Linked DNA regions of Homo sapiens: region 2 is linked to region 1. The links come from fine-mapping of genetic effects on plasma protein levels. A gene starts in region 1. The other region holds a variant in brackets. All regions are shown on one strand. Distances are between the middles of the regions.

Evidence for each region. PIP is the chance, under the fine-mapping model, that this variant and not a neighbour inherited with it causes the effect. Protein levels are from antibody-based Olink assays in UK Biobank. Linkage for the fine-mapping came from a reference panel and not from the study's own genotypes, which makes the PIPs less certain.
Region 2: its variant is fine-mapped to the plasma level of the ANGPT1 protein (UK Biobank, PIP above 0.99).

What each region holds. Positions count from the first base shown.
Region 1 is chr8:107,489,199-107,505,379 of GRCh38, reverse strand. ANGPT1 (angiopoietin 1) reads left to right here and starts at 7,462. Exons shown (of 9, transcript NM_001146.5): 1 at 7,462-8,118. The coding sequence starts at 7,822. RefSeq lists a silencer at 3,763-3,963.
Region 2 is chr8:105,561,687-105,577,867 of GRCh38, reverse strand. All of the region lies in intron 4 of ZFPM2 (zinc finger protein, FOG family member 2), which reads right to left. Among named protein-coding and RNA genes, the nearest start is that of ZFPM2, 250 kb to the right of the region's middle. The variant T/A (reference allele first, on the strand shown) is at 8,568.

The DNA of each region.
Region 1 (16,181 bases):
CCCCCATAGCTCCCAGGGCATAAAATTTTCACTATCAAATGTGATTGGTTTACATGTCTGTTTGCCCTACTTGATGTTTCTCTGGTTTCAGTAGCCAGAGTATTACATTGTTACTAAATTGTCCCCAACTCATTTCATTCATTCAACAAATACCTATCCAGCACCGATTATGTGACAGGCATTCACTGTTTCAGGTGCTAGGGGGATGCAGCAGTAAGGAACAACATTGCCCTCAAGAAACCAGAGCTATTTACATGTGTATCATTGTGAACATGAGCATCCTCTCATTTTAAAATGTGCTTCTTAAATTTGTGATTTTTTAAGATGTTCAGAAATAATTTTAAACATTTAGGAGGGCAAAATGATAGGGAATGAAATTAGGTAAATGTACTTATAAAATTCAACTAAACAAGGCAAAAAGTAGCACAATTTCTGAGCACAGAAAAAAGAACTCACATTTAGAAAGAAGAACTAACATTGAGAGCACTTGGATATGGTCTGGACACTGTGCTCAGTACTTTATATCCACTATCTTATTTAATCTTCACAACGTTCTTATAAAATTGGTACTGTTATTACTGTCTTCATTTTACAGATAAGGAAGCTGAGCTTAGGAAAATTAAATGTCTTGTCTAATATCATCTAACATGGACTAGCATAGACAAGAAATTAAGAAACAAAACAAAAACAAAGCAGTCTGTATCCTCCCACCTTAACCACTATGAAACAGTTCATCCAATCTGGCAGGAGGAAAGAGAGATAAGACAGTATTACATCAGAAGTAAGATTAGATTAAGAGAGAGTATAAAAATAAGACTAAAAGAGGAAAAACAAGCAATTTTAGAAAACATTAAGGATCTTATTTCCCTCGTATTTTTTAAAATCTGAGTTTACAATGCTTGTGAATGATTCTTTTTTTAACTCATGAGTGGAGGTTGTAACAACTCTGTGACCACAACATAGTTTTTCCTCTGAACAGAAAGTCCTACATCATTGAGTTACTCTCAGCGGAGGGTACTTTGGCTACAAGAACTGGTTACAAGAACTATCCAAGTCCCACTGGGTTACCATAACCCATGAAATGGTAATTCCAGGCATTTCTTGAAATTACTTGTTCTTTTTTGAGAGTTTCTTAGAACATGTAAAATACATGTGCTTTCTGAAGTTGGAAAAGTTGAGACAGAGAGGCCTTTGCATTCTGCTCTCATCTAGGAATCAAGACTTCTGTAGGGAAAAAGAGAAGAAAGAAGGAGGCAGTTAGTAAATGCAAAGTAGTTTATATGCTTTTTATAATAAAATCTCACTGGGTCTCCAATGGAAATCCTTCTTCATTCTCGTATGAGGGGAATGTTGGCATCTGTATTTCTGCATGGTACAGTCCTCAGCTGTTTGTTTTCTTTTCTGGCTTGCGTATTTGTAGAAGTTACCTTCATTGTAGAATTAACAACTAATCTCACATTGAGAGGTATTTCTGAGATGTTTCTTGAATGGTTTTTCAACCGTGGCAATGTTCATAGGTGGCTGGAAGTATTAGGTATTATTCCACTACCACTGCTGGGATTGACTTTTGGAATCTATGGACTCTGGGTGCCTTCTATGACTCACCACAAAGTGAGATCTCTAGGGCCTATGCAAGTCTAGCACCTGAAAACTTGTAAGGGACTGGCTCTGTGTCTTCACATCTCATCATTGAGATTTAAGGTGAATGAATCAGACAGTCAGCTGGATATTTATAAAGTTCATCCTCTGTGCCAGGAAAAGGGGACAGACAGATCAATAAGACAGACACAGTTCTAGCATTTGGGACTCTGATCTAGTGTGAAAAACAAACCTGAAACAAATGACTTCAATTGCATTCACATTAATAGTCTGTGTAATCCATATGTTAGCTGTTCCCATGCTTGAAGCAAAGACCAATTCTTCAATTCCTCTTATTCACCTTTAAGAAGTCATTTGCCCCAAAGTATATATTTTACTGAAACAGATAAGACAAATTTGATCTCACTGGAAACATTATTTCACTCCAAATCTCCTTACTTGATATATCTTCCCAAGTCTCTCATGGCCACACAGCCACAAGCCTCCTCTCTCTTTCAGCAGCTCTGCCTGACACAGAATCTCTAAACCTCTCTAGCTCCAGTCCTCCACTTCTAGATCTTTTCCTGAGTCTCTTAATCCCTTCTCTCCTTTCTTAGGTAGAGCAAATTAATTCAGTCTCAGCGGTTTCCACCTTGTATATCTATAGTTTAAAACCAACTTAACAGGCTGAGCCTGGTGGCTTACGCCTGTAATCCCAGCAGTTGGGGAGGCCGAGGCTGGTGGTTTGCTTGAGTCCAGGAATTCGAGACCAGCCTGGGGAACATGGTGAAACTCCATCTCTACAAAATAATACAAAAATTAGCCGGGTACGATGGTGCATGCCTGTAGTCCCAGCTACTAGGGAGGCTGAGGTGGAAGGATCACTTGAGCCTCAGAGGCAGAGGCTACAGTGAGCTGAGATCATGCCACCGCACTCCAGCCTGGGTGACAAAGCGAGACCCTGTCTCAAAAATAAAATTAAATTAAACCTACTTAACAAACAAGATACCTAACAATTACCAGAAATTTCTGTCATCAAAAGACAGAGGAATATTTATATGATAATTTTTATTTTCCTCACTTATCTATATGCCTCCAGTCCTCATCCCACTTGCTGCAGTGTTTCCAGCTTTTTGTAGCATCCTCCCAGTTATTCTGGGAGTTCTAAATGGATATTTTGCATGTACTCATGAAGTGCCTTCAGTTACCAGATGATATCCTCCATCTTCTTCTGTTTTTGGTTTTGTCCCCTGTGATATTTCCAACTGTTGTGGATACCTTTGCTGCCTACATAGTTGAGTGAAGGTGTCTTGGCTCTGCTTCCAGGAGCTACAGCCAAGTGCCCTCCCTCCTTTTAGATAGAGCTGCCACTTCTATAGGCCTGATGATAGTCTTGATCCCTAAAAGTGCCTGAGCAGAGTCACAGAATATGGCACCCTTGGTGTGGTGAATCACATTGTGTTCAGAACACAAAGTAGGAGAATACTTTCCCACCCCTTTTTCCCCTATAAGTGGTTGTATAAATACCAGAGGACTATTTCCTTGAATCTCATTGCCTGGTGGTATTTTTGAGAAATAAATACTATTTTTTTTCATATATTTTGATTTTATTGTAGAGCAGGAGTGATGATCAAGATATCTAACAGATGACATGGCATAGGACCAACCATTTAGAATATTTCTAAAGTATAATCCGATTAATCAGATTGGCTGTTGGTAAGCATATCTTACCATACTGGTGCATCCTGATTTAATATTATCCCTGTTTTGGAAGATCATAACATGAATCTGTGAAAGCCCTGGGTTTCAGAGGAAAGGGACCTCTGAAGGGGGAAGTCACCATGTTGTTCTTGTTCCCTAAATTATAAGAAATATTTTCTCAATACTGAAGTATTGTCATAAACAATATAGCTCAGTGGGAAATGAATGTGAGCCTCACAGTTAGATGGATTGAGGATCAAATTCCTGTTCTGCCTCCTAAGAGATCATAGATCCTGGGCGATTAATCTCTATGGCTCCACATTTCTCATCAGCAAAATGGGAATAATAATATATAATATTACATAATTATGGGGGTTCTGTAAACATTAGATGAGAAAATTATTTGTTAAGTGTTAAAAAATACTATGAATTATTATTGTACTTTGCTCTTGCGTCTAACTCATTCTTTAGAATAAGTTTGGCTTTATCCTCAGTTCTTCATGCCTAGGGATTCTAGGCAAACTCACCCAACAAATGCAATGAATGTGGCCAGTCATGTAGTAACCAGATAGAGAGTCAGGAAGTTGCATCAACTGAGTCATTAATCAGCTCATTCATTTATTTGCTTATTCTTTCATTCCTTCAGACAAAGTGCATAGTGAATGTTGAGGAATCAATGATGACAAAGAGAAGATCACTTTAGCAGCTCACAGCAAAAGCAAGAGACAGATAAAAAAAAAGGCAACAATTAGCAAGCAACGTGAGCAGTGCAGTTTTGGAGACATGAGGAGAAGGTTATTGAAATTTAACACAGAGAGCATTTATTGGACCTGGAGAAATTAAGAAAGCTTTACCAAAGAATTATCAAAGACTGTTTCTTAGGATAGATTTAGGCACATTAAGTTCTGGTATAAATGGCTCTTGGTCCCTTTGGAAATTTCAGACTAAGTGGGACATTTACTAGGACTCTTTGTAAATATGAGATCAAAACCTTAAAGCCTACACTTCCTTATTCCAGATCTCTAATAAAACACAAAGCTTTTGGGTTCAAGCTACCACAGAATTCAATTGAACAGAATTGTTTAGTTCTTTATAAATATTTTATCCTTCATGGAGGTGTGGTAGATGAATTTTAATTGGCTTGTTCTTATTACTCGCTTATTATTATTATTATTATTTAGAAAGGGTCTCACTCTGTCATCCAGGCTGGAGTGCAGTGGCAATCATGGCTCACTGCAGCCTCAACCCCCTGGACTCAAGCGATTCTCTCACCTCAGCTTCCTGAGTAGCTGGGACCACAGGTCCTGGGCGTGCCACCACACCTGGCTAATTTTTATTTTATTTTATCTTGGGTAGAGACAGGGAGGGTCACCCTATGCTGCCCAGGCTGTACTCAAAATCCTAGTCTCCAACGATCCTCCCACTTCGGCCTCCCAAAGTGCTGGGATTACAGGCATGAGCCACTGAACCCAGCCCTACTCCCTAAATTTTAATGCATCCTGAATTCTGCCCCATTTCTGAATAATCAGCAACACACAACAGTGTTGCTGTTGCTTAGATGCATGATCCCAAAGACATATTATCTTTAGTGTGTCAGGATCCTTAAATGTACCTACAGTCTCCTTAACTGGAGTTCCAAAAACACCGGAGTCAATTCTGCACATCCTTGTGTTTTCTAATTACTTAAAATTCATCTTCAGACATTTTTTTTCAGAATGACACTAGTACTTCCAGTGTTATGGTTTAAGGTTGATTTTGTTTTTCTGCAAAAGAAATAAATCAGTCTCTACATTTTTCTCTGTCTCTTTGTCCCTCGACCCCTCCTTTTTTATTTGCATTTCAGGCTTCTCTTTCTTAGTGTCTACTTTTCCCTCAGGAAATTGTGCATTCCTGCTTTTCATTTATTCTAATTGCGAAAATTCACATGGATAAGGACACAGAGACGTACACAGACACACACGTGGAGGAACAGATTTTTAACAGTCTCGGCTATTTAAAAACACAGGAGCACTTTAATAGAAACCTCACCACTCATCCATTAGTCTTCTGCCAATTTTCTGCTGTATTTAGTTCTTCGCAAAACACTTCTAGGTGTCGGGTTTGGACTCTCTTCTTTCCATGGATAATTTTCAAATCAAGCATTATTGGAAAGTGTTCTTAGACAACCTGCATTTTGCCAGTGCACTTCATCTTTGTGGCTGTGCATAGGTTACCTGTCACTGTGTGTGTGCGTGTGTGCGTGTGTGCGTGTGCGCGCGCACGCGTGTGCTGGAAAAGGCCTGAATCACTTTGGAGAGATACTCTGGTTTTAACAGTGCTTTTTCTTCTAGGTACGTCACTTCTCCTGGTTTAGGACTGTAAATCAATGCAGCTGGAGCGCTTTTGAAATTGCTTTCATTCCTTGCAGAGATTTCCAAAAGCAGGCTGGCCTGGTGGTTTGAAACAGGCTCTGAGTCAGTTTGCCTGAGTTCACATACTGGCGCCATCACTTGCCAGCTCTGTGAATTACATCCTGTTAGCCTTTCTGTGACTCAGTCTTCCCATTGATAAAATGGGGTTAAACGGATGATATCCGTGATCTTAGGTTTGTTGGAATGATTAAGTGAGATAGTGTGTAAGGAGTGCTTCGCCTGGAAAACAGTAAGGTCTTAATGCATGCCATTATTATTGTTGCACAGGAGTGATACATGACTCAATGAGGAGACACGCAAAAGTTCAAGAGGCTGCAAAAGTGGTTCAAATATTTTATTGCTGTGTTTGGCATAACTTGCTTCCATATCTGTCCAATCAGAAATTTGTTATTTGGTGTGGAAAGGACTGATGAATCTCGGCAAGGTTTCTTTCCCCAAGTAAATCGCATTTGTTCTGGAATTTGTTTTGACCTCTCCTCTAACTTCTCCCTAAATGCCCATCTCTAACCACTACGGACCTTCACCCACTGCCCTGTTCTCCTTCCAAGACATGGGAGATGACAGCTGTGGCTTCTGTTTTCACACCATGACTGCAGTTGTCTAAAAGCCCTCCCAGTTCCTAATGAAAATCCCAACTCATAATTCAGGTTTTCTGCATCTAGTAAAGATCTCAAAGCCGTTCCCTAAATTCTACAATTATTGCCTGTTTATGTTTATGGGTCCCTTTGTTCAAATGTTTATACGCTGCCTGTGGGAAATCATCTTCTGATAATTTTTCTTTCTTCCTTCACAGAAGCACAGAGATGTCTCCTGTACAGCCCATTGCTGGCTGTTAGCACACCTGATATATGCTTGTTCTCACATAGTATGTCTGTGCAGCCACAGGAGGTTTTTATGTGGAACTTCCACACCAGTGTTAAAGACAGCCATAGCCACCAAAGAGATCCTTGTAAAATACAGGATTAGGATATACCACAGGAATTAATAATTCTCAAGCCACTGCTTTAAATTGTAGCCACATTGTTTTTGTAGGGAAGTTGCTCAATTTATATACACAGAACATGAAGGGTTGCATTCTGATCAGGACACCAGTTTCATTTAAGAACCCTATACCAAAAGGTACTTAGATAACCCTCTTTAATATGCACATACTATATTGCTTTGTGCAACATATTGCTTTGAGCAACAAATGATGCTAATTTTCTTGCTAATTTGATCCTCTCTGATTATTTTCTTCAACTCCTAAAAGTCTAAGTGAATACAATGAAAGAATACCATCTGTAAAAACTGTTTTTTAACATATTTTTCCTCAGAGTCAAGAATACATGTTTTTTAAAGACATTTAATAATGATATGGGTTTATCATTCTCTATCAAAAATAATTCCATTGGACATTATGCCAATTTTCTTCTTAGGGTCCCTCGACTAAATAGTAACTTTAAAAACATACTGCTAGTTTGCTATATTTTAGTAGGTCAGCATGCACACCAAAAGTGTATTAAGGTGGACTGCTCTATTTATTGATTTGCCATGAATCTGCTAAAGGCTCAAGGCAATTGTCTGTGGAAAGGGGCGGGAGGGCCATACATGATCGAGGTCATGCGCATCTAGCCAATTTGTAAGACGATCCCGCCGCCCTAAGCCATCAGCAATCCTTAGTATAGGGGCACACTCATGCATTCCTGTCAAGTCATCTTGTGAAAGGCTGCCTGCTTCCAGCTTGGCTTGGATGTGCAACCTTAATAAAACTCACTGAGGTCTGGGAGAAAATAGCAGATCTGCAGCAGATAGGGTAGAGGAAAGGGTCTAGAATATGTACACGCAGCTGACTCAGGCAGGCTCCATGCTGAACGGTCACACAGAGAGGAAACAATAAATCTCAGCTACTATGCAATAAATATCTCAAGTTTTAACGAAGAAAAACATCATTGCAGTGAAATAAAAAATTTTAAAATTTTAGAACAAAGCTAACAAATGGCTAGTTTTCTATGATTCTTCTTCAAACGCTTTCTTTGAGGGGGAAAGAGTCAAACAAACAAGCAGTTTTACCTGAAATAAAGAACTAGTTTTAGAGGTCAGAAGAAAGGAGCAAGTTTTGCGAGAGGCACGGAAGGAGTGTGCTGGCAGTACAATGACAGTTTTCCTTTCCTTTGCTTTCCTCGCTGCCATTCTGACTCACATAGGGTGCAGCAATCAGCGCCGAAGTCCAGAAAACAGTGGGAGAAGATATAACCGGATTCAACATGGGCAATGTGCCTACACTTTCATTCTTCCAGAACACGATGGCAACTGTCGTGAGAGTACGACAGACCAGTACAACACAAACGCTCTGCAGAGAGATGCTCCACACGTGGAACCGGATTTCTCTTCCCAGAAACTTCAACATCTGGAACATGTGATGGAAAATTATACTCAGTGGCTGCAAAAAGTAAGTGATTGCTTTCAGTTTCTAATAGCACGGACCTTTTTCCTTTCTTGCACTGCAGCTAACTTAAAGTTCCTTAGGGGAGCATTTGTGTATTTACCTTTTGCTCCAGGGGGGCAGTGTTTGCAATTGCAAGACGGCTGTCTGGGTTTGGCTTCCTGGGTAAGCCAAGGTTTGGGGGCTTGCCCAAACCTATGAATGTGTGGGGGCACCCCGTTTGTGTGTCTAGCCCTGGCAAATTTTATGACATTTTTGGTTTCTCTTTTCTAAAGTTCAGCATTAAGGTTCTCTCTGTCAAAACACTACCTTAAGAAAGAAAGTATGTACCTCTTAAGCAAGTTGGTGAAAAATAAATAATAATGACAATATTAATTAATAAGATCAAATCGATTTTGCACCAGAAAATTTTGTGCCGCTGGGGTGGCAAATCATCACAAAGTATTTGTTTTTTTAACCTTTATAAAAATTAACATGAAGTGAGAGTAAATATAAAATATGATATTTGGTTGGAGAAATTGTATATTTATGTAAAGGGAACTGTTAGTTTCAGCAAGTGGTAGAATAGTAGACTGATTTCTGTTAAATATTTTTTTCTTCTGTCCTTGAGAAAAAAAATTAAAAAGATACATTGTAATGTTAACTGTCGGAAAGGGGTTGCTCGCTCACGATGAGGGCATGCTGGCTGTTGAGGAAGACATGCACCTGCAGATATGGGCTGAACGCAGCATGTAGTCTACTATATTCCTGAAATACCTCCCTTCTCAGGGCATTGTAGTTAGAGACAGTACCTGGCGAGTTTAAGTATCCATGTTATTTGATGAATGTTAATGTTGAGTATGAATGTAATCTCAATTTATAGAAATCAAATCGAATAGTTTATCCAGTTATTTATCTACAAACCATTTAAGTTTTTGTTGAAGATAAGCCTATTAAATTATGAACACACTTCTGCAATTCATTCTGTCTTTGCACTCTGTTTAATAATAGGCAGCCGAGAATAAGTATATTCAACTGACTATGCTACTAGAAGGGAGGCAATGTCTCAATTTGTGAAAAGCTTCTCTCCCTTGTTAATGGATTCACTTGGTACATGTAGATAGGTATGCAATCAGGCTTCTTTAAGTTAGTCTGTTAACCGGGCAATCCCTTTAAAAAGATAAAAGATAGGGAAAGGACAAATGCTCTATTTTGTTCCTGTGTGGTCACACTCACTTAGGTCATTGCCTGCTGAATCATGCCAAGTAATAGTTATTCTACTTTTGTCCACTAGGGACTGAACTAAGATCACTGTTATTTTATTTGACACATTAACTGGAACTTAGTAGTTCTACAGTTTCCAAAGCTGATATTGTAATCTTTCTATTACAGACTATAGGACTGTAATAGGCAATCAGTAGGTAGGCAGAAGAATAAAAAGCAAACAGAACTCTCAGGTTTTTTACAATTGTAGCTGAAATTTTATGCATTACTTTCAGTAGTAGTTTATAATAGGATGTTTGTATTTTTCTTTGGTAAAATTTATTTCCATTGTAAACAAATGATTTTGGTTGAACAGCTTGTTATTATTCTTCAGTACACCATCCGTATAGTTTTTAGTGAGAATTCAATCATTACATATTAGTCTGGATTCTTTGAGGGAACGGGAAGGAAAATTTAGTCCCAAGTTATCCTGAATGATCTATTCTACCAAAAACGTAATGTTTTGTTTGCTTAAAGCGTATAATCACAATAGTGATTCAAACATAGTAATGCATATTTCTTGTTGCTATGCAATTATTCAGCAGTGACAGGGTAAACACATAATTCTGCTGGGCTTAAATCATGCACGTGTTTCATATGTTAATTTATTTTGCAAAATAAATTTGATTCTTGTTTGCATTGTTCTTGGTCAATGATTATGGGATAGCTTTCAGATTATAGCCAAGAATAACTATTAAAATGTTCTTTGGTTACATTCACCCTTTCAAGTGTAAAAATCAAGCTGAATATATGCTGAAAACGTCCCTATTGGTATGAGTCAGAGCAATGTGGCTTGACTATTGTCAGTTTAAATTTGCATATCTTTTGTCATTGTCAATGTGATTGGTTGGAGGATCAAGAAACCAAAAAATGCATTCAGCAAAGAACTTGCTAAAGGCTTTCATAAGTTTCCCTTAATTAGGAGTTTTCTTCACTCCAAGTTCTAAACTTCATGTGATATTTTTATTCTGATAATTGAAATGGAAATCTTTTTACTGTAACCATTTGGTATGCTCAGTACTGCAATTTGTATTACTTCTATTTTGATTCCAAGTAGTTGCCATAGGAAGAAGCAACACCCTGCAGAAACTGAGGCTATCAGTGTATGTAGGTGAAATTAATTTATCCATTTATTTGGCAAAATAATTAATCAAAGCATAGTGATTATTATGCAGCTCATGGCATCGCTATCAGGAAAGGTTTTGAGGCAGAATAGATGTGTTATCAACTCTAAATGAAGCTATATGATAATTATGTTAATCCATCACCTTCCATGAAGGGAAACCTCCTTCCTCAACTTTTCTGGTCTTGCAACTGAACAGGATGAGAAGCAAGGCATGCAAGGGGGCAAATGATTTGTGGGTCACCATAAATACTGGAACTGTTATGGCACTGCTTTCTTGATGTGATGGATTTAATTCAAAGAAATCAACTTTCCATAATCACTTGTCGATTAAAATGAGGTAGGTTGATAGCATTATTGTGACATCTCAGACCAGGAAGGGTGGTGTGAATAATATGCCTAACATCATAGTTTTATTTTGTGAAACACCTGGGTGTGTTTCTGGTTTGATCTCTTCTGTAATACAGCTCTTTTTGGAATTATTAGCAAGTCATAGTAAATACCTGAGAGTGACCAGCTCTTAGATAAGTAATGATAAATACAGCTGGCCTCTGTGTCTTTGTCACTTTCTTATGATCTCTCCCTACCTCTCTATGACAGTGAAACATTTAGCCCACATCCTGTACTTTGTGAACTATTGTTTTCTGTCTCCCACATCTCAAAAAGTTCACAAAGATGTACATTTAAAATATTTAGATTTAAATATGTATAATGTTCTAAGATTTGGGGAATCCTTAGAAGATCTGTTTTGCTTTTGCCAAATGATGTCTTTTTTTGTTAAAAGTTTAAATAAATTGAGTCAATAATGCCTTGTAACAGAAAACAATAGTCTATTTGCTATACATATTTTACACTAGCTAAAATTGATGACTATTAATGGAAAATATAGTTATGAATTGCCATCCAGAATATTTTAAGAAATACAAAGATTTTACTGGACTATTTAGCTGTTTTTCTATTGACAACATTTTTTGGTTAAGGATGTCCCCTATTTGCATATTGTATTCTTTTCTTCAGAGTTAAGATTTGAAATGCTATTACCCAAAACACATTGATGATGACGATTTTTTTAAACCCATATATTACATATATATTAATCCCTATTAATATCCATTAGAATGTGACCTCCATGAGGCCAGTGACCATGTGTGTTTGTCCAATGTCATAACCTCAGTTCCCAGAAGAGTATATAACATATTTATAACAGATATGCAATAAATATGTGTTAAATGAAAAAATGAATGCATTATCTATTGCATTCTGCACTTTACTGTCTACTGTCAGCATTTTATTCGAGGTATACACCTTACCTCTTCAATAGATTGTAAGTTGTCCTATAGGCAAGGACTATAACCTATGGTTATTTTTGTCCTAATACTAGTTAAAACAATATTGGGTCCAGAGTAGGTGGTTATTAATTATTCAAATTATATTTAACCAGTAATCTAGAATCTCAAAAACTTCTCTAGTCACTCCAATTCATCTTCTTAATTATTCTTTAAGGGTCAGCTCTGTTGCCAGTTTCTCCAGGAAATCTACCCACACTCCACTTACCCTCCCAGGCTGAGTTCTCAAATGTCATCACAGTACATTGACTGTATCATGTTAATGCTGTAGTTCAAAGTTGTTGTGGTGGTTGTTTTAATTGTTTGTTTCTAGGCTTGTTTTCCCACCTAGACTGTGAGTTCCTCAAGTGTAGTAAATGTCGCTTATCCATTTTTATACCTCTGAACATGTTCATTAAGGGTCTGGATTAATTTTTTGTTATTGTAATAATCAGTTTTTAAGAAATCAAGTGCTCAAGTGTATAGTGGTAACTATAAAATAGTGAAAATTAAGGGACCTTGTAACTACTTTAAGATGCTAAAGTCTGCTTAAATGTTAGCACTAGGCTACTTGAGGGTCAGCTAGATATTCCTTTGTACAATAATGTTTTGTACTTCTATAAGCACAAGAACTTAGTATTTCTTGTTCAGTACAGTAGGGAGCCATTTACTGCATACATCTGTATAATATGTATATATCTGTATACTATATGCACATGAGAACTTAATTATAATAATATGCATCTGTATAATATGTGCACATGAGAACTTAATTATATTAATATACATCTGTATAATATGTGCACATGAGAACTTAATTCTCACTGGTATATTATTGTTTTGGTGGCCGGTGGTGGCTGTGCAACAGTCAGAGAGAATGCTCTTATGTTTTATTTTCACATTTGTGGGAACTTCCTAAATGTGTGAAATGGGTACATATTGGCCGGGCGTGGTGGCTCACACCTGTAATCCCAGCACTTTGGGACGCCAAGGCGGGCAGATCACCTGAGGTGAAGAGTTCGAGACCAGCCTGGCCAACATGGCGAAACCCTGTCTCTACTAAAAATACAAAAACTTAGCTGGGCCTGGTGGTGTGTGCCTGTAATCCCAGCTACTAGGGAGGCTGAGGAAGGAGAATGGCTTGAACCCAGGAGGCGGAGGTTGCAGTGAGCTGATATCGCACCACTGCACTCCAGCCTGAATGACAGAGCGGGACTCCATCTCAAAAAAAATAAAGTAGATATTTAGTAAGTATGATTTTAATAATTTGTCACTAAACGTGAAAATAAGATACATGCACAATTTATGCCTAGAGATTGGGAAAAGTAACAGTTGCTGAGAAAGATTAATAGAAATAATGATCTTTTAAATCGAGTTGTAGAAATGTCCCCATCAACTTCATTTGAAGAATAGACCTCTGATTTTCAAGCCAAGTAAGAGCCCTTCAGAATCTGTATTAACTTTTCAACAAATAGTTCGGTATTATTGGTTGCTTGTTACATTTTAGAATCAAAAGATCCAAAAAAAACCCTTTCAGACCCAGAAGTTAGGCAGTTAGTGTTATAACAGCCTTTTGGTAAACTGTCTCCATTGAGAGAGCTCAGGTTTTAGGGCTATGACAAGTAGGTCCTTTTCTATGAGTTTCTATGGGCAATTACAGTTCTTCCTTACCCCTGACTGTACCATTTCACATTGAGCTTTCTTTTAATAGCACTCCTCTCATATAAAGGTATTGGCTTAATGTAATTTAAATGAATAAGAATGTCATTTCCCCCCTTAAAATCCTCCTACAACTTCTCATTACATAGGAATAAAATCTGAATTCTTACCAGGAGGTCTTATATGATCTGCCCCACACCTCTCACTGGCCCCATCATTTACTACCTTCAAACGACATTCCAGACACTCAAGTGACATTGGCCTTCTTGTTATTTCTCCAACAGACAGGCTCATTCCTGCCTCAGGGACTTTACAAGCTGTTTACTCAGCTCAGAAAATTCTTCCCCCTGATCTTTGCATGGTTGGCTACTTCTCTTCATTCAGGTCTTCACTCAGCAGTCTTCTCAGAAAGTCTCTGAGCACCATTACCTACCACCTTCCCCACTTTACTAAGAGACTTTCTACCTTATTATACTGTTTTATTTCTTCATGGTACTTGCTACTGCATAATGCTGTGTTACTTATTGTCTGTCAGATTATTTATTCTATCTCCGCCTACTAAGAATGCAAACTCCATTAGAGCAGCATCCTTGTCTATCTCGTTGATGCAGTATACCTTCTACCTAGAAGAGTGGATGACACATGGTAGAACCTTAATAAATATTTGCAGAATGAGCGACTCTCTATTTTCATAGACACTATGCTCTATGAGGTACATGATGCACCTGTCTTGTTCACTAGTTTTTATTTCTTCTTCTTTTTTTTTTAATCATTTCTGGTAGCAGATTGACTTTTCTAGCACAATGCTTACAGCATAGTTGGCTCTATTTATTATTTTTTAATAAATAGGGAAATAAATGAAGTCCATGAGCAGATTTGGACTATAATCAAATTGATGGGTGAAATTTGATGCAACTATATTTTACATATTACCTTTTTAACTACATAATGGCAGAAATTTTATTAATATTCTGAGTTTCCATCCTCTCTATCAAGGGTCAACAAGCGATGGCCCTTGGGCCAAATCCTTCCTGCCACCTCTGTTTGTAAATAAAGCTTTATTGAAGAACAACCACTTTCCTTCCTTTATATGTTGTCCGTGCATTTGTAAATAAAGTTTTATTGGAACAGAGCCACACTAATTCATTTATGTGTTGTCTATGGCTGCTTTCATACTACAAAAGCAGAATTGAGGAGTTGCAACAGAGCCTAAAATACTTAATATCCAGCCCTTTTGAGAAAAAGTTAGCTGACCCCTGCCCTATATTGCAAGAGGAATTAGTATTAGTATTGGGACCATTGCAAGGTAGATTGTAAGGTTTGTTGTGTGGGAAAAAGATCGCCCTCCAGGAGGCCCAGTAATCTTCAGGTTCATGCCAGTTGGCAGAGAGCCTGACTAAGCCATTTCTTGGCTGGGTGTCTGGACATGCTGTGAGGTGACATTTTAGAGGCACACAAACAAGGGAATTTCATGTCTTTTCTTTCTCCTGCCCATCATCACAAGAACAGGGAAATATTCCTAAAGCAGATACATATCAGAAAAGAAAAAAAAAGCACCTGAATAACAATACAGACCAGCAGCCTGTGGATAAACAAGTCTGGGCTACAGGATCTTCTGTGCTATGTGCCTGTTTCATCCTGTTGGTTGTGGCATTAGCAAGAATGCTGACAAAACACTAGAGCCATTCTATTTTCTTAGAAATGGGGCTTCAGCTCAGCCTCTTATTAGAAACCTTTCCCCCCTGTCATTTGTTTTAAGTATAAACATTAGAAGTGCTCTCACTTGTGCAGATGATGAGAGGGGAGGAGCGATAAGTGGGTAGCTCAGCTACAAAACACAGAGTTTTATCAGCCCCTGTGCTATAATTTGCTAATTAAGGAGGTTTTGTTTTCATTCTGCCACAGCCTTGTCTCTGTGTGGATACATTAGCAGCCTTTTCCTGGGCCTTGTGTTCTTTTCTTTTCTTCTTTTTTTTTTTTTAATACCGCAAGCTATATTGTGTCATTTGCTTAGATGCACAACCCTAATTACATTCTGAGTCATCCTCGACTTTTGTCCCAATACAAGATTATCTTTGGCGGTGGAGTTGGGAAATTCCAAACCCCCTTTGGTTTTGGCCCCATGGTCTGAGGGAGGGAGGGCATCTCCATGTTTAAATCTTCTTACAATGTGTACAAAAGATGTGCCCCCTCTCTTATCAAAGAGGTTTTTAAAGAATGACGCCCTCCATGGATTATCTTCTCTTTACATTTGGAGGCTATTTCCATGTAGGATCTATACCTGAATACTGTTATCTAATTCGAAATAATTAGAAGTGAGAGAGCTTTAGATTCATTTGGTCTTAGTTGTCTGCTCAAATAATCTGAATTTTTTCCTTCAAGCAAATGAAAAGGTGATTTTGAACAGAGAAAGTAGCTAATAATTTCATCCAGAATGCATTTAGGCCTATGAAGATCTTTTCTTTTGTCAGTAAGTACTGAAAAATATAGAGTAAGATAACTGTTGTTACTTGTTTATACTATACTACATGACTGTGCAGGTCACTTATTAGAGGTCTATCTAGGAATGTGTTTCCTAAGTTTGTGTTGAACTCTTGAAAAAACATGCAAATTAGCACAGGCATTGAGGTGTGTCTGAAGTAAATCAGCAGCTGAAATATGAATAAAATGCAAGTGAAAAAAATCTGAATATCTTAAATCACTAGTAATATGTACCTATA
Region 2 (16,181 bases), 1.9 Mb after region 1:
AATAGTGAAATAAAAACTCACAAAAGATCAAATAATATGGAAGCACTTTTCACTGCATGCATTTTTTTCATTTCTCACTTTTTTTTTTTTTTGGTTTCCTCACCATATTTGCCACTTTAATTAAATTGGGTCTTTTTATAACGCTCTATGTGGTCAATAATTGTAAACAACTTTTTCATCCTACAGATGAAATGCTCTACACTTGTTCTATATTACCTATTAGAGTACTTAAAGTATCTTCATGATAATTTTGCAATTCAGTTTTTCCATGATGTAAAATAATGAAATTATAAGAAAAATAATGTTAGAAACAATCTTAATATTTATAATATCTAAACTATGACAAGAAAAATATTGACTAAATCTGTGTATTTCTTTCAATAATAGAGGTGTGCTTTACTTCATAAGATTATTTTATTTGTGTAAGTTAAGAGTATAAAGAATAGGAAAAACATACAAATGTATTCATTTTTATCTTATTTGTTGGCTTAAAAATCAACTGTTTACTCTATATGAGCATGCATGTGCATGTATGTGTGTGTGCCTGCACACATGTGAATACTACTTTTTGTTTGTTAGGTTTACTTAAAAATATACATAAAGGCTATGGACAGAATTCAGTTCTATTTAAATACTCTTACATGAAGCAATTCTGTGTGGGAAGCATTCAGATTTTTGTATCCCACATTTTAGAAGAGTTCCTGACTTATGGAACATGCTAAATAAATACTGAGTCAAGTTTTCCTTCAAGACTTCTATGGCTGTATGTACAAAACATTAAAGAAAGAAATACATTTTAATAGTCATTTACTTGCTACTAGATTCAGCAGAGGAAAACTGTTAGAATAGTTATGAAATAAGGGAAATGATTATTCCACTACCCTTTCATATGACTGTAAAGATGATAAAAATAACATACCACTATAAAGGAAACTAATAAAAGATAGCTGAAGCTTGAGCAAAATAAACCATTATAGGAAGGCACACAATATGGCTGGAGATTTAGTTAGGGTGACATGTCCAAAAGGGACCATCCCTACTCTTTCATGCAGACAATAGCCAACTGTTTTGCTTGGGTCCATTCTAAAAAGCCTTCTTAATGATTAACTTCAAGTGAAAATAAATGACCATATAAAAATACATAAATGGCCATATAAAAATCTGAAAGCTCTTTACAAAGTAGGAGCATTAATATACAAATACATACAAATAGATCTATCCTATCAAAGCTTTTTTAGAAACAAAAAGTTGTCTTCCAATATGACAGGATGTGTCACTTTTCTTCTATCTTTCTTTGTATTTTCACACAGACATTATTTTAACCAATAGTTAAGAGTCTGAGTTAAACTCACCAAAACAAGAACGTTAAATCTGAAGGTGGAGTTGCCCTCTACCAATCAGGTCTCAGCAGTGGGGAGCAAACATCACCTCCAAGCAGCTAAGTTTTTCTAGATAAGCACTGGACTATCCATGGTATGTGAGGTATTTCCCTATCATTCACTCATCTGACAACCACTGTTTTTAATTTTTTGTGCCTCTATGTTTATTCATAAGACACCAGGCCAATAGTAGGAGGAATAGTTAAAAAAAAAATCTCAGCATCATCTATAAGCTTAAAGATACTTAAACTTTACAGTGTATTGACTTGATGCCCACTTTTCTTGACCATGTTTACTAATTGCTCTGCGTATATATTATTACCGTGTGCTGTAAGATAGTGGTTCTATTTTGCTGGAGCTTTAGCTGTCTTTTTATTTTTTCCTTCATGGGTAGGAATGATTTTATTTTAGCTGTCCTAGGAATAGCAGATCCGTTTCTAAAGCTCACTAGAATTTTCTTAGCTGTATGAATTATGTTTGAAACATTTAATGTGTATTTTTTAAATGCAGAGTAAAAATAGCCCACTTATTCCCCTTTCAAAAATCTCAATAAATAACAAAGGTACATTAGGCTCCAAAACAGCTTAACTGAACCATATGTGGATCCAAAGGCCTGCCAAAATGGAATCAGCATTATGAAAGATAGCTTCATATTTCATCTAGCCATAAAATAGGAACCCACAGTATATAAAATGTACAGGCCACTTGTACAGAGCTCATGATGACAGTGAATTGAACACTCATTGTCAACAGAATAAAAGTGACCTAATACATACTCTGACAGGTTTCTTGAGTTTGGATATTTTTTTTCTTTTTCTGTCTTTTTGACCTGGATTGACTAATCACAGATTATGGAGCAAATGACTTAAAACAGCATCTTGAACCTATGCCCCTATGACAGTCACAGAATTTTACCATTAAAATATTTCATTAGAAAATCTTCAAGAAGCAGCAGAAGGTTTGGCACTGAAGCCTTAGGATCCCATTAAGGGCCTCTGCCATATTCCCTAGCTCATCTAGTCCAAAACAGCACACTCCACTCCCACGGAGTCTCTCCAAAGCCATTTTGAATCCTCTTTTCCCTTATCAGGCTGATACAGACCTGCATCATCCTCGGAGCCTTCTGACAGGGGCTACAACAATTGGGGAAAGGGAGGGGGGTGATACAACGGCTCATTGTTTCCTTTCACAAAACCCTGCCACAGGGCGCAGATTAACACCAAAAAATAGATGGCTGCAACCAAAGAGAAACATTTTTCAGAATGCCTCCACTTGATTAATGAAGTAATGGAGCCGACCACTGTTTGACTTTCATCACGCACTCTTCCTCCCTCACCCCTTCTCCTCCCGGAATATCAGCAGAGGCGGGGGGACACTTGTGCACATGTCTGCCTCCTTTGAAGAGTTGTCATTTTCACAAAGTTTTGAAGAAATGCACCAAGAATAACACTGCCTAGGTTTCTTGCTGAAAATATTCAGATAAAGGACAAATTTTCTTTCCACCACTTCTGTACTTCTTTAATAAAGGCAAGTGCTATTTTTTTTTTTCCTATAGGAGCTGAATTTAACATGTACTTGGGTCCTGATGCCTATCTCAGATGCACACATGGATATAATTGGGTACCTTTAAATGCACTAATATGCTGCGTGTGCCTGGGCAGCAGTGGCTTTCAGAGGAGAGGTGGTAATGCCGCATCCGAGATTAGGATCAGAACCTGAGGGACTCTTACTGCTCCTGTCTGCGGGGTAATGCTTACACTATTACACATAGGGTAATGAGGTACAAATGGTATTTGTTTGACTTCTTAATAAAAGCTAAAACTTAAGGCACGTGACGTGCCTCTGCTCTTCCAAAACTCTGTCCCCATTTCTTCATATTTCACAGTACATCACTGTCTGCATTATGACTGCCTTATTCACTCCATTCTGTATGGAGCTCTAAAATGCCATAAATAATGAAAGAATTGAGTTAACATTTTAAAATACAAACCTAACTCAAAAGTGAATCAGACAGGGTAAATTACTTTTCCAATTGTCTGAAATCCCCAATCACACACCTGAGAAATGCTTTCTGAAGAATAACTCCCTACAAAAAGAAAACTCAAAGAAGCCAAGATCATTCAAAAGGCAGTTTGACCACTTAACCTTTCTTTCTCTTCCTAAAAATATGTGTTTTTCCTCTATGGTGACTGTCTGCTTAGATGATAAATGCACTAAGTCCATACCGTTTACTTATCTAGGCTATGAGTTCTCAGAATATTCATGCCAGCTAATCAGTAAGCATGTGTGTGTATGGATACGTGTGAGTACACGTATATGAAGCTATATTCGTATGACAACAAAACCTGCTTTTTAAAGTATGTTTAGGGAGAGAACAGAAGAGAAAAGACTAGATGCACTGCTTGGGGAATTAAAGGAATGAATCATTTACTTTCTATTCACAGGCATAATAAAAGGAATCCAGGTTTGTTTAACAATCTGTATGTTTTTCAAAGTGACTAAATGCGTATAATTTTATATAACTTTACAATTCTATGTTGTAGGGCTGGTATAATAACCCCTATTTTATAAAAGAGGAAACTAAGAGCATGTATGATTACCCAAGATAGCACATCCACTTTGAGTAATAACAGGACTAGAATCAGGCTGTTCTGACCCCATCACGGGCTCTTTCCCATACTTTCTCTCCCACTTTTGATCTTTACAGTGTGTGGGTGTATATTTCTCAAAATTACCAAAGGAGAAGAAACACTCAGCAAACTACTTTTGATCCCCAATTCCCACCAAATTTTTGTACAAATCACGTTTTGTATATTTTAATTTGTCTTTATTGCAAAATTAATATCTAAATAAATTAATCAGGAAGCCACTGATCACAGATGTGAGAAACCATAAATATTTTAATGAATAATAATAAAATATACCTCATTTTCACAAATGTCTTTTACTTATTAATCTTTGATTTTGGTTATGATGCTGTATAGCATACAGTTTTGTTGTCTGTATTCAAGTTCACTGAATTTTCTTTTGTGATTGCTCCCATGGCTCTTGGTATTTGAAAGTCCTTCCCTATCCACAGGTCAGGTTAACTACTTATGCAAATTACCTTCTGTGGCAGACAGCCTCTGAGTTGGCCCCCAGTCATCCCAGCCTTCTGGTTTCAAGCTCTGCACAATTCCCTTCCCTAGAATTCAGCAAAAGTGATAGGATGCCACTCCCATGATTAAGTTACCAAAGCACTGTGGCTTTTGTCTTGGGCTCCCTGTCCTATGCTCTCATCTGCTTGCTCAGAGGGATGCCAGCTGCCATATTGTGAGTGGCCTTAAGTAGAGGCCCACTAGGCCAAGCACTGAATCAAGAGTCATTTGAGTGAGCATGTAAGCAGATCCTCCACTAGCTGAGCCTTCAGATGACACCAAGACCTGTCTGTCCCCTTGATTGAAGCCTTGTGGGAGACATTATGCCTGCGACAAGTTGTGCTCATTATTTTTAACCATCAGAAAAGGAACTAAAGTGTATGAGAAGAAAACCACAGACCAACCTACATAACTCTATGCTTTAGTCTGGTTTCCTGCCATTAAAAAATAGAAAGTGATACAAAATGGCACAGAAGACGCTGAAATTATTAGAATCAAGAAGCCACAGTTTTGTCAAGCTGGGACAAGGGGTTTTATGAGAAAATTGAAGTAAGAGTCAATGAATAATAAAGAACAACTTTAGGCTGGGCACGGTGGCTCATGCCTGTAATCCCAGCATTTTGGGAGGCCAAGGCACGCAGATCACCTGAGGTCGGGAGTTCTTCGAGACCAGCCTGACCAACATGGAGAAATCCTGTCTCTACTAAAAATATAAAATTAGCCAGGCATAGTGATACATGCCTGTAATCCCAGCTACTCGAGAGGCTGAGGCAGGAGAGTTGCTTGAACCTGGGAGGCGGAGGTTGTGGTGAACTGAGATCACGCCACTGCACTCCAGCCTGGGGAACAACAGCAAAACTCTGTCTCAAAAAAAAAGAACAACTTTAAATTCAATATTTAAATTAACAGGCAAAAATATGTTAATCTCCAAGAGAGTTTCTCAAATAATTTCTCAAATTTCCAAAGTATGTAATAAATATTACTTTATTATTCTCTTATTAGAAATTTATGCAAGAGGCTAGGTGTGGTGGCTCACGCCTGTAATCCCAGCACTTTGGGAGGCCAAGGCAGGCGATCACAAGGTCAGGAGATCGAGACCATCCTGGCTAACACGGTGAAACCCCATCTCTACTAAAAATACAAAAAATTAGCCAGGTGTGGTGGCGTGCACCTGTGGTCCCAGCTACTCAGGAAGCTGAGGCAGGAGAATGGCATGAACCCGGGAGGTGGAGCTTGCAGTGAGATGAGATCGCACCATTGCACTCCAGCCTGGGCGACAGAGCCAGACTCCGTCTCAAAAAAAAAAAAAAAAAAAAAAGAAATTTACCCAAGAATACTTGCCCCTGGACCACCACACAGCATCAACACAGAGCTTTATAGCAGTGGCTTGGAAAGAGTCACAAACTTGCCAATGCTAGGAAAACCTTATATGATAATAAAGGTTGTCAATGCCACCTGAGAGCTACAGTTAAATTATGAAACTTGGTGAATCCCATCCTGGGAATATTTATTGAAAATTAGATTAAAACCAGAGTCCAATATGTTATCAGAGTTTGACAAAGCATTATCCCTAAGTAATTTTGATTTTTAAGACCAAACTGAAGGAGTACAAACTGGTACCTATCTCCATTCTCTCTGTTATCATCTCCAAGTTACTGAATGTATTAATTGTCATGTCAAGCTGAGATTGATGCTAAGTCCTCATAATGCTGGCACAATATTTGTTACAACCATGTAAGCATATCCTGCCAAACTAATTGTTTTGAAATCAGTATAGAATGACAATTCCTCAAAAACATCAAATAGAAAGAATTTAAAAGGCATGCCAGACCTATCAGCACATAACAGAGGACAGTTTGGTCAACTCCATGAACAACTCTTCCTCACAGTGCTTTGTTACTTCTACCTTCCCCTCCAGGGAAAACTACATTTCAAGATTGATATTTTAGAATTTGTGTTACAAAAACAATAGTTATGCTTTACAAACCACTTCCTCACTAGTCAAGATGGTGATAGATTTCCCTAGAGAGGCAGGGATGCTATATATCCACCCACTTCCACCTTAGGCCTTCATGATTCTGTTTTTGGCAAATACGAAGAAATGACAGTAGCAATGAAATCTGCATTAAGAAAATTCATGTAAGGATCCCTATGTGTGGGAACAATCACAACTCCCACAAACAGTATCTGGAGCTATAAATCAATAGTGATTCTTCATCCTTCACACCGATCCTCTGTGGGAAAAGGTTATGTGACTCATTTGTCTCAACTTTACACACATAGAGTGGATCAGCTTTGATCATCTTATGATGACATAAACAATTCCTCCTTTCAGAAATTAATTAAATTAATAGCACTAATCGTCCTAATAACTGAAAAGATCATCTTCAACAAAAGTTCTCCTTGGAGTTCTGGGAAAAGGGAACAATGAATAATCTTGTAAAAATAATTCTTTTTAAAAGTTCAAACTTGGCCTAACTAAGGGTAAATAGGTTTAGCCATATAAACCAAAGGCCAAAATGTATTAAAATTTCAGGCAGAGGAGAGTAAGTTAGGTCCATAAATAAAATTGTCTATGTATAGCAAGGAATTGTGTTTCCACCTTTCAAATCCAAGTCCAAATGTAAAGAACCTGGAAAGACTTCACCATCAGGAGAAAAAGTAAGTCAGGATGAGATTGAGGTTAACAGGCTAGCTATACACAAAAGGTATTATTTTGGAGGCAAGTAAAAATTATCAGGAAGGGCACAAATTCAGGTTTTCATTTCAATACCATTGTGCCATATGACAATGTATTTTCATCCACTGCCAACATCATAACTATATCTGCATTATAACACAGCAAATCCCTTCAGATTAATATGCAATTGACCTCTCTGGCTTCTACATATTTCAATTGTGAAATAATTCTTCGGTGTTTAATTTCTTCCTTTCTGACTCACATTCAATAGCAGGCCTTTGATTACTGAGGCCTCCACACAAACTTCTTTCTCCTCTTTCCCTGAGTAATCCCCCTCCATCAAAAAAAAAATAAATAAAAATAAAAATCAATAAAACAACAAAAACCCTACCCTAATTCTAGAAACCAAACCAACGCATCACTTTCCAAGGCTCTGCTGCATTACATTTCTTGCCTTCAAGTCTTCTTTGAGCAGCTTTTCTGTCCACTCAGTTTCCATTAATTCTCCACATAGCAGATAGAGTATAAGAGAAGCCAGGATCTTGCCCTCCCTAAGGGACAAATCTACAACCTCCATCAATAATGAATTTCACCAATGTTTCCCAAGAGGAACAGGGTACAATTAAAAAGGTTATAAGTCCTTGCACTACTAGAACCTAAGGGCGTCTGTGAATGAAACTGGCTTAAGCCCAATTAGAGGAATCAGTACATTTGTCTTCTCTTGGAACAATCTTGCTCTTACGGTTCCCATCAATTCAGTATAAATCTGACTGATCTTATCCAAGAAGTTAATAGAAAATTGCTCACAGTGGGCGACTGCCACCTCAGTTTCCAAGCAGAGACAGATGGAATTTCCCAGATGGTTTGTCACTGGAACGTGTGAGGCTGGATGAGACTTCACAGAAAGCATGGTAGAGCAGAACACCTTCTTGGCCTTCACCCATGTCATAGTGAGGGATCTAAAACTGAGTCTGTTGTAAACAAATCATAATTGCCTCACTAGGCGCAACACCTCATCCTCCTAGCTGCATCCAAGGGTTGCAAATCTTACACCGAAATTAGTCAACTTTTCTCAAGAAACCATCATGGGCATATCTCCTTATGAGATAAAAACTGAAGAAATAGACATAGTTATCTTGTCCTACTGAAGTTTCCTCTCAAACGAGACTAAAATAAAAGTGCAAGTCTATAAACAAATAAAACAGGTACAAGATAGCATTTCCTGTGGTAATTGCTCTGCTGAGTTAGGCAGATGAAGCAAGATCACAGACGAAACAGACATGGATGTAAAGCCTCAGGAAGGATGCAGGGTCTTGAATAAGGAGGGGTGTGCAGCTGTTCCTGATATGGAGAAAAGTGAAAGGAAAAAAT[T/A]AATGTGCTGATTCATTCAATGTTATTCATTGAGCTCTTAGTATAAGCTAGACATTGTTCTAAGTGGGAAGGATAGAAAGATAAAAAATAGATAATAAGCATATGGTCTGCAGGGGAGATAGACAAGCAAACAGGAGCTCACAGTTATGTGATCAGTGCTCTTATCCTAGTAAACCTAGAGCACCAGGGAAATACTCCAAGAGTGGTTATCTATTCCAGACAGGAGGCTTCAGAGAAGGTCTACCTTGGAAGTGACTTTGAGCAGAGTCTTTAAATAAGTATTGGACTTAGTGAGATGAAGAGAGATAGGTGGGGAGGGGGGAATAGGGGTTTCCAGGAGGATAAAACAGCATGACCAAATGTACGGATGTGGAAAAAAAATGGACATTCAGGGCACTGCATGTAGTTCAGAATGCCTAAAGTCTATAAGAGAGTGGAAAAGGGGTCAGAACTGGGGAGGTGAGCATCACCTGGGGAGGTGAGTAACAGGAAGGCCTTTTTTAGGCTTTACCAAAACCTTGGGGTATTCTCGTGCCCTTTAGAATGATTTTAAAGCACAGGAGTTAAGTGACTACTGTAGTTTTGCTTTCAGGACATACTGTGGTCTGAGTAAATAAAAAGATGACAAGAGAGAACAGAAGAATATTGTAATAATCAAGAGAGAAGCGGTGGGGCTTTCGACTAAAGCAGTGGTAGCAGGACAGAAAGAGGAGAACAATCATTACGAAAGCAGGAGTTATGATGCTTGGTTTCTGGACATGAAATGGAGAGTCTTGGAAGATGTTTGACTCTGAATAGAAGGAAAAAGAGATGGTAGTAGTTACAGGCAAAAGGAGAGAGGTATGGGTATGTGTAACTGTGTGTGAATAGCATTTGAGATGTGAGAAGGAGAGGTAGAAATGCAGAAAAGACACAGGATAATTGAGAGAATGGACTCCCTGCAGAGGTACGAAAGGAGAGGCAGAGGACTAGGATTAAAGGTGACTGAAAGCTGGAAGTCATGGAAAAGAGAGGCTGTCTGTGGAGACAGGAATAAACTCTCTTTGTGACTGTGTAGTTGGAGGAATTAAATGGGAAAGCTTGCAAAACAGTTGAAATGTGCTATTAGAGAAAGGGTAAAAAGCCAAGGTTAGAGATTTTTTTATTTAAATGTCATTTGTAAATTAGTAGCTGAAGCTTTGCAAGTGGATAAGCTCCCTGAGGCACTGGGAACAGAGGGAGAAGAGAAGAAAGGCCAGAAGTGTTTTGGGAAACACTCACAGTTAAATTAAAAAGAGCTAAGACCCAGAGAGATATGAGAAATAGGAAAGTATGGTAGTCCTGAGCCCAGATTAAAATGAATATTAAGAAGGAAGATATCATTCACAATGTCAACATCAATGAAATCTGAGGCTCAACAAAAAGTCATGCCTCAGCAAAATTATAAATTATGCCATTGAGATGGGAAAGATGGAGAATATGGGTGGAGTCAGTGAGAATGTTCCTGATAAGCAAATTCAATTCGATTAGATTTTTATTTTAAAGAGCAGTTATTGAATACCGATTATGTACCAGTAGTAGAGGTCCAAAATTGAATAATAAAGATTAAATAATTCTATGTCCTCTAGAATCTCAATAATAATTTGGATATTGCTTTTAAATTTATTTCATTATTACATCTTAGAGGCTGTCTTAGTATGGATTCCCCAGAGGCTTACCCTGAGACTGATTCAAATACAAGTAGTTTACTGGGAAGTTGATCCCAGAAAATTCCAGTAAGGTTGTGGCGAAGTAAGCAGGAAAGGGAAGAGGTCCACAAAATGTTCACTATCAAGGCAATCAGAGCTCAATTCCACTGCCAAACTCTAACAGACAATATAGAACACATCTTATATCCTAACCAAGAGGAAGGGAAGCGGAGGTGTTAGTCCACCAACTTTCTGTCCATCATTGGTTGAGGATAACCTTTGGGAATAGGAAATCTCCAGCACTTCCAGCTTTCCCAGCTTGCAAGGAGTTTGCTCTTAACGCTGGAAAAAAGTGCTCAGGTAGAAAAGTCACAGGTGTGCCCACTGAGCAGCCTTTGCCTATAGAGGTGAATGCTGGAGACATAGGTAGAGATATATTTGCTACAGGATATGTACAATATGAAGCTTGAAGACTAGCAATTATTAAGATAAAAGATGAATACTGGAAAAGATAAAACTGCAAAGGGATAAATGGAGGCAATTAATAATTCTAATTATAAGCAGGTAGATCAGGAACTTCTAATTTTTTCCTTAACCACATTTCTATAAAGATGACTATCTTAAAACTTTTAAGATGCAATTTGATACATGCATTATTTCATTATTAGGTCAACAAAATATCTATAGTGCCCTTTATATGTATATTTCATTTTTTTAAAAAAAATTCAGTATCACAAATACCCTGTGGGAAAATAATACATTTTATTCTGATTGAACAGAATAAAATGAGATTTCTCTGTCAAATTTCATTTGTTGAATTTAACAGGTTGCGATGAGTTTACTATTATGTTGTAAGTAATCTGGGGCTTTCTATTTAATTAACTATGTATGTTGTATGATTCCAGCAGTTGGCTGAATCCAATCAGAATAGTTAGCTATCAACAGTTGATAATATTTAAAAGCAAGAGAGGGCAAACGCCATTTAAATTTCAGACACCCAACCTTCCAAGTAATCACTGTTGCTTGATACTTGCTAAGCACTACCACGTGCTAGCACAGCTGAGATTTAGTTTATTGCAAGGATCTTTGTCCTTGGGAGAATATGGGGAAAATCTTCAAAGGTACAACATATAAACATAGATGTTCTAAAACACATCCAAACCAGATATTGATCAGAACTTAAGGTGATTTTTAAAATTTCTTCCTCATCAGTAGTCCTTTGATTTTTTTTCAGTGAATAAAACTGCAAAACTTTCAAAAACACCAAGTTTGTGCTACCATGATAGTATTTAATATAAGTTATTTCTGAGATATGAGGTGAGATGCTGGAAAGAAAGCTGGGCTCCCTCACTGGTATCAATTTTTTCAGGGGTATAAGGTCATACCTCAAAAAACTGAAACTTGCAAGGTAGTGCAGACCTTCGGAGCCTGTGATGGTTCATTTTAATTGCCAACTCACAGGGCGTTTCTGAATGAAATTAACATTTAAATCAGTGAACTCTGGGTAAAACAGACTGCCCTCCAAAATATGAATGGGCCTCACCCAATCAACTGAAAGCCCGAATAGACCAAAAAGACTGGCCTCCCTGCAGACGAGGAAATATCCCAAAGACCGCTATCGAACTTCATCTGCACCACTGGCTCTCCCGGGTATCTCATCTGACTGAGTACTGCAGATTTTGTACTTCCCAGCCGTCATAACTGGACAAGCCAATTCCTTATAACAAATCTCTGGCTATATACGTACACATCCTGTTGTTCTGTTTCTCTGGAGAATCCTAAGACAGAGCCCTTGGCAAACAGTCAAATTTAGGCATGTAAAAATCCCCTAACGCCAAGGTTTATAGTGTTACTTGTTTAATTTAAAGAGTGCTTTTTGCTTTAAAGTTGAAAGATTTCAATGGGTTCACTTCCACAGATTACTGACTAGTAAAAGTAGTTGAAATGTGTGGATAACTCACATATGCTATCTCATTTAGTCCAAAATTCCTATAAGCTAGGCAGTATTATTATTACCACATCACAGAAAACATTTCTAAGACTGGAGCATGTGTTATGGAATCAGACTGAGTTGACCTTAGGCTAGTTATTTAACTTCCCAAAGTAGCAGTTTACGCCTCTGCAACAAAGGAGATAAATATTATCTTCTCTTGCACTTGTGTAAGAAGTAAATATGATATAAAACATGTAAAGCACTTTGACCAGTATCTGGCCCAATGAAAGTATTTACTATGCTGCTGCTGCTATTATAAAACTTTTAAAGCATGAAGTATCTACCAAGATAATAAGGTGTGGACAAAAGATACTCTATTTCTATGTTCAGTGTGTTATATAATTCCAAGAACAACTTTTTGTCAAACTAATTTGTTTGGTGTTTCTGTGTTTTTTAAAATGTTCTATATACATCTAAATGCCTGGTCTGCAAAGGCTTCCTGCAGAAGGTGGCATATTGCTAATGTACTTGAAGATGGGGACTTGAAAGATATAAAAAGGATTTGACATCTGGCATGGTGACTCAATTAATTACTGTGTTGGATTAATTAGTGAGCTGAATCTCCCGAGCCAACACCATGAGTTTGAGCAGAGTAACATTACATCAGTTGGCGAATAAGCAATTTAAGAGAGTGCGCTAATCCAAATTTGATTCAAGGTTGGGTAGGGAAGGGGTAGTAGGCTATATATTTTATTATAAGGAATATTTATGATTTCAAATACATATTATAGTACTGTCCAAATTATGAGAGGTAACAAAACTCCAGAAGTCTTTGAATTAACTTTTAACTGCTCAAGTAGTCTAATTACATAATAAATATTTTGCCCATCGGGGAAAAAAAGGTATATTTCTAATTTTTGCATACTTCCTCCCAGAGATTTTTATAAATTTATGATTCATGTTAAGAAATCATCAACAATTTTATCATGCTCAAATCATGTTACAGATGTTATACTGAGAATGCAGTGTGGCAGAGTCTTTAAAAAAGCAGACTCTCGAATCAGAAGTGAGAATTTTTATTTTCTTATCTGTAAAATATGATTTATGATAGAACCAAATTCACAGGTTTTTTGGAGGACTAAATGAGCTAATCTATTTCCATTTTTCAGACATATATGTTAACCAATTTGATGTACAGTAGTAACAGTAGTAGGAATAATAATACTAGTAGTATTTAATGATATAAACTCAGAAGTAAATTTTGGAAGAGGATGTTATTTCAAAAGAAAAACATTTGAAAATATATTTTAGTGAGGCAACTAAATTTTAAAATAAGGAAAAATGCTGTATTTTAACTAAATAAAATAATCTGATATTTAAAGCCTAAGACAAAAGAAGAAAACTGAAGTATTAAAATTGTTTTCTATAAATAATAATCACCCATTACCCAATTGTTGATAAACTTAAGAGTAGTCATGTTTTAAATAGTATCAAAAATTCTGAAAATTTCATATAAGTTAACGCCTTTTAAAAATATTAAATATGGCATAAAATAGCTTTACAGTCATATAGAACTATTAAAATAGCAAAATGACATCAACTGTCTAAAATCAGAAATTATTTCAATGAAAAATAAAAAAATCAAACTTTCTCAGACAGGTTTATCTTCTATCCATCACGATTTAGCATATGGTAAAAATGTCATAAAACTACCATTCTGTATACATACAGAGAGTAATAGCAAGATTAATCAAAAATAGCATTTTAGTAAATATATCCTTTTAATATAGTAAACTGGAAAATGTTCATCTTGCATGTCAACTATAGCTGATACAGTGTCAGTACACTTTTGAAGAAATATACAAATGATTAAAGGTTGCATTGGTATCTGATACACTGTGATAAATAAGATAAATATGATATAGTTTAAAATGTTTAGTAAGCAATGCTAGAAGACAAACAGAAACTCCCAGATAAAATAAGTTCAGAATAGCATTTAATTCAATCTTTGATGTTTAGACAATCCTTCTCTTGCCTTTCTTAACATTCATTAGCTTGAGAAATGGGCACAGTTAATATTGCTCTCTGAAAGGAATCAATAAAACAATCTGTTAATACAACTCAATCAACTGAGGCCTGCATTTTGTGGCTACATCACAAATCTCTTTTGAAGTAGCTGCACTGGTCCACCTAGAACAAATTGCCCAGAATATTAAATATTTGGTCTGGACTGTAAGGTCAACTTGTTTGGTCCTTAAATGTATGTGAAAACCCCTACTTCATCCTTTTATGGATAAATACATGAATGTACAAAGTAATAAATATACCCCTGGGATCTCATGCACTCTTTAAAAGTTTGGTAACACAAATATTTCCTATTTATTCTAATCATTACTTTTAGTTGAACCAACAACCTCTGTCACATCCACATGGTACTGAATAAACGGAGATCCACATGTATCAATTTCTTTCATGTAATAACTTGAAGAAGGGATTTCCTTCATGTAATAAATCAAAAAAGGAATGTAATGTTGCTGAACCCAGTACACCTGTCGAAACCCCTCTGGGAGTTCTTATGTCCCTTTAGCATAGATAGGGTCATTTAAAAGTCACAAGACTGTTCCTACATAAATGGCATTTAGAGAGAAGGACTTTCAGGGGAATAAATACTTATAAAATTTCTGGATCCTCTAAGGAATATGAAACATTTTTCTTCCCAAATTTCATCACCTGTGTTATCACTTATTATAAGAGAGGTTTTCAGCTATTGTTTTTCTTTTATCCCATGTGGTAGGCAGAATAGCTCCTTGCAAAGATGTTTACATCCTGACCTCTAGAACTTGCGAACATTCCTTTGCATGGCAAAGAGAAATGAAGGAAGCAAATGGAATTGAGAGTGTTAATCAGCTGACCTTAAAATAGAGAAATTAGCTTAGACGACCCAGGCAGACACAGTGTAATCATAAGCATCCTTAAATGTGTAAGAGGGAAGCAGAAGAGTCAGAGATGGAATGTGGACGTGCGAAAGACACCATCAGGCCCTGGTGGCTTTGAAGATGGAAGGGGGTCTATGAGGGAAGGGCCACGGGCAGCCCTCAGAAACTGGAAAAGGAAGAAAACAGATTCTCCTATAAAGCATCCGAAAAGGAGTTCAGACCTGCAGACACCTTGATTTTAGCCCAGTGACACCCAATTTGGATTTCTGACTTCCATAACTGCAAGATAATAAGTTTATGTTGTTTTAAGGCACAAAGTTTGTGGTGAGTTGCTGAGGCAGGAATAGCAAACTTATATATCCAATTAAGAAATAAAGTTTAAATGTAACCAAACTACCTACCTTTCCATTTATTTATTTATTTATTTATTTATTTATTTATTTATTTATTATTTTGAGATGGAGTCTTGCTCTGTCACCCAGGCTGGAATGCAATGGCACGATCTTGGATCACTGCAGACTCTGCCTTCTGGGTTCAAGCAATTCTCCTGCCTCAGCCTCCCGAGTAGCTGGGACTACAGGCACCCGCCACCATGTCTGGCTAATTTTTTTTTGTATTTTTAGTAAAGATGGGTTTCGCCATGTTTGGCCAAGCTGGTCTCGAACTCCTGACCTCAAGTGATCCACCTGCCTCAGCCTCCCAAAGTGCTGGGATTACAAGAGTGAGCCACTGTGCCCAGCCTCCATTACTTTTAAAACATCTAATTAATCAATAATCCACATAATCATGGCAAGAGATAGACTTTCTGTTCTCAGAACTTTTACAAAAAAGCTGAATAACAAAAATTATAATGCTGACCACTCATCCCTGCTTTTAAAGGTACAAACAGTATTACCAAGGAAAAACAAAGTTGTTTATTTCTTGTTCTTCATGAAAACCTGTAATGGATGACAATTTGTGTCATCTGAAAAATAAAGGCAATTTTATATATTACTAAATGTGAACAGTCTTGGTCTGGCTAAGCAGATAAAGCAATAACCTTACATATTACCTTACTAGCCACAATTTAGTATGAGTA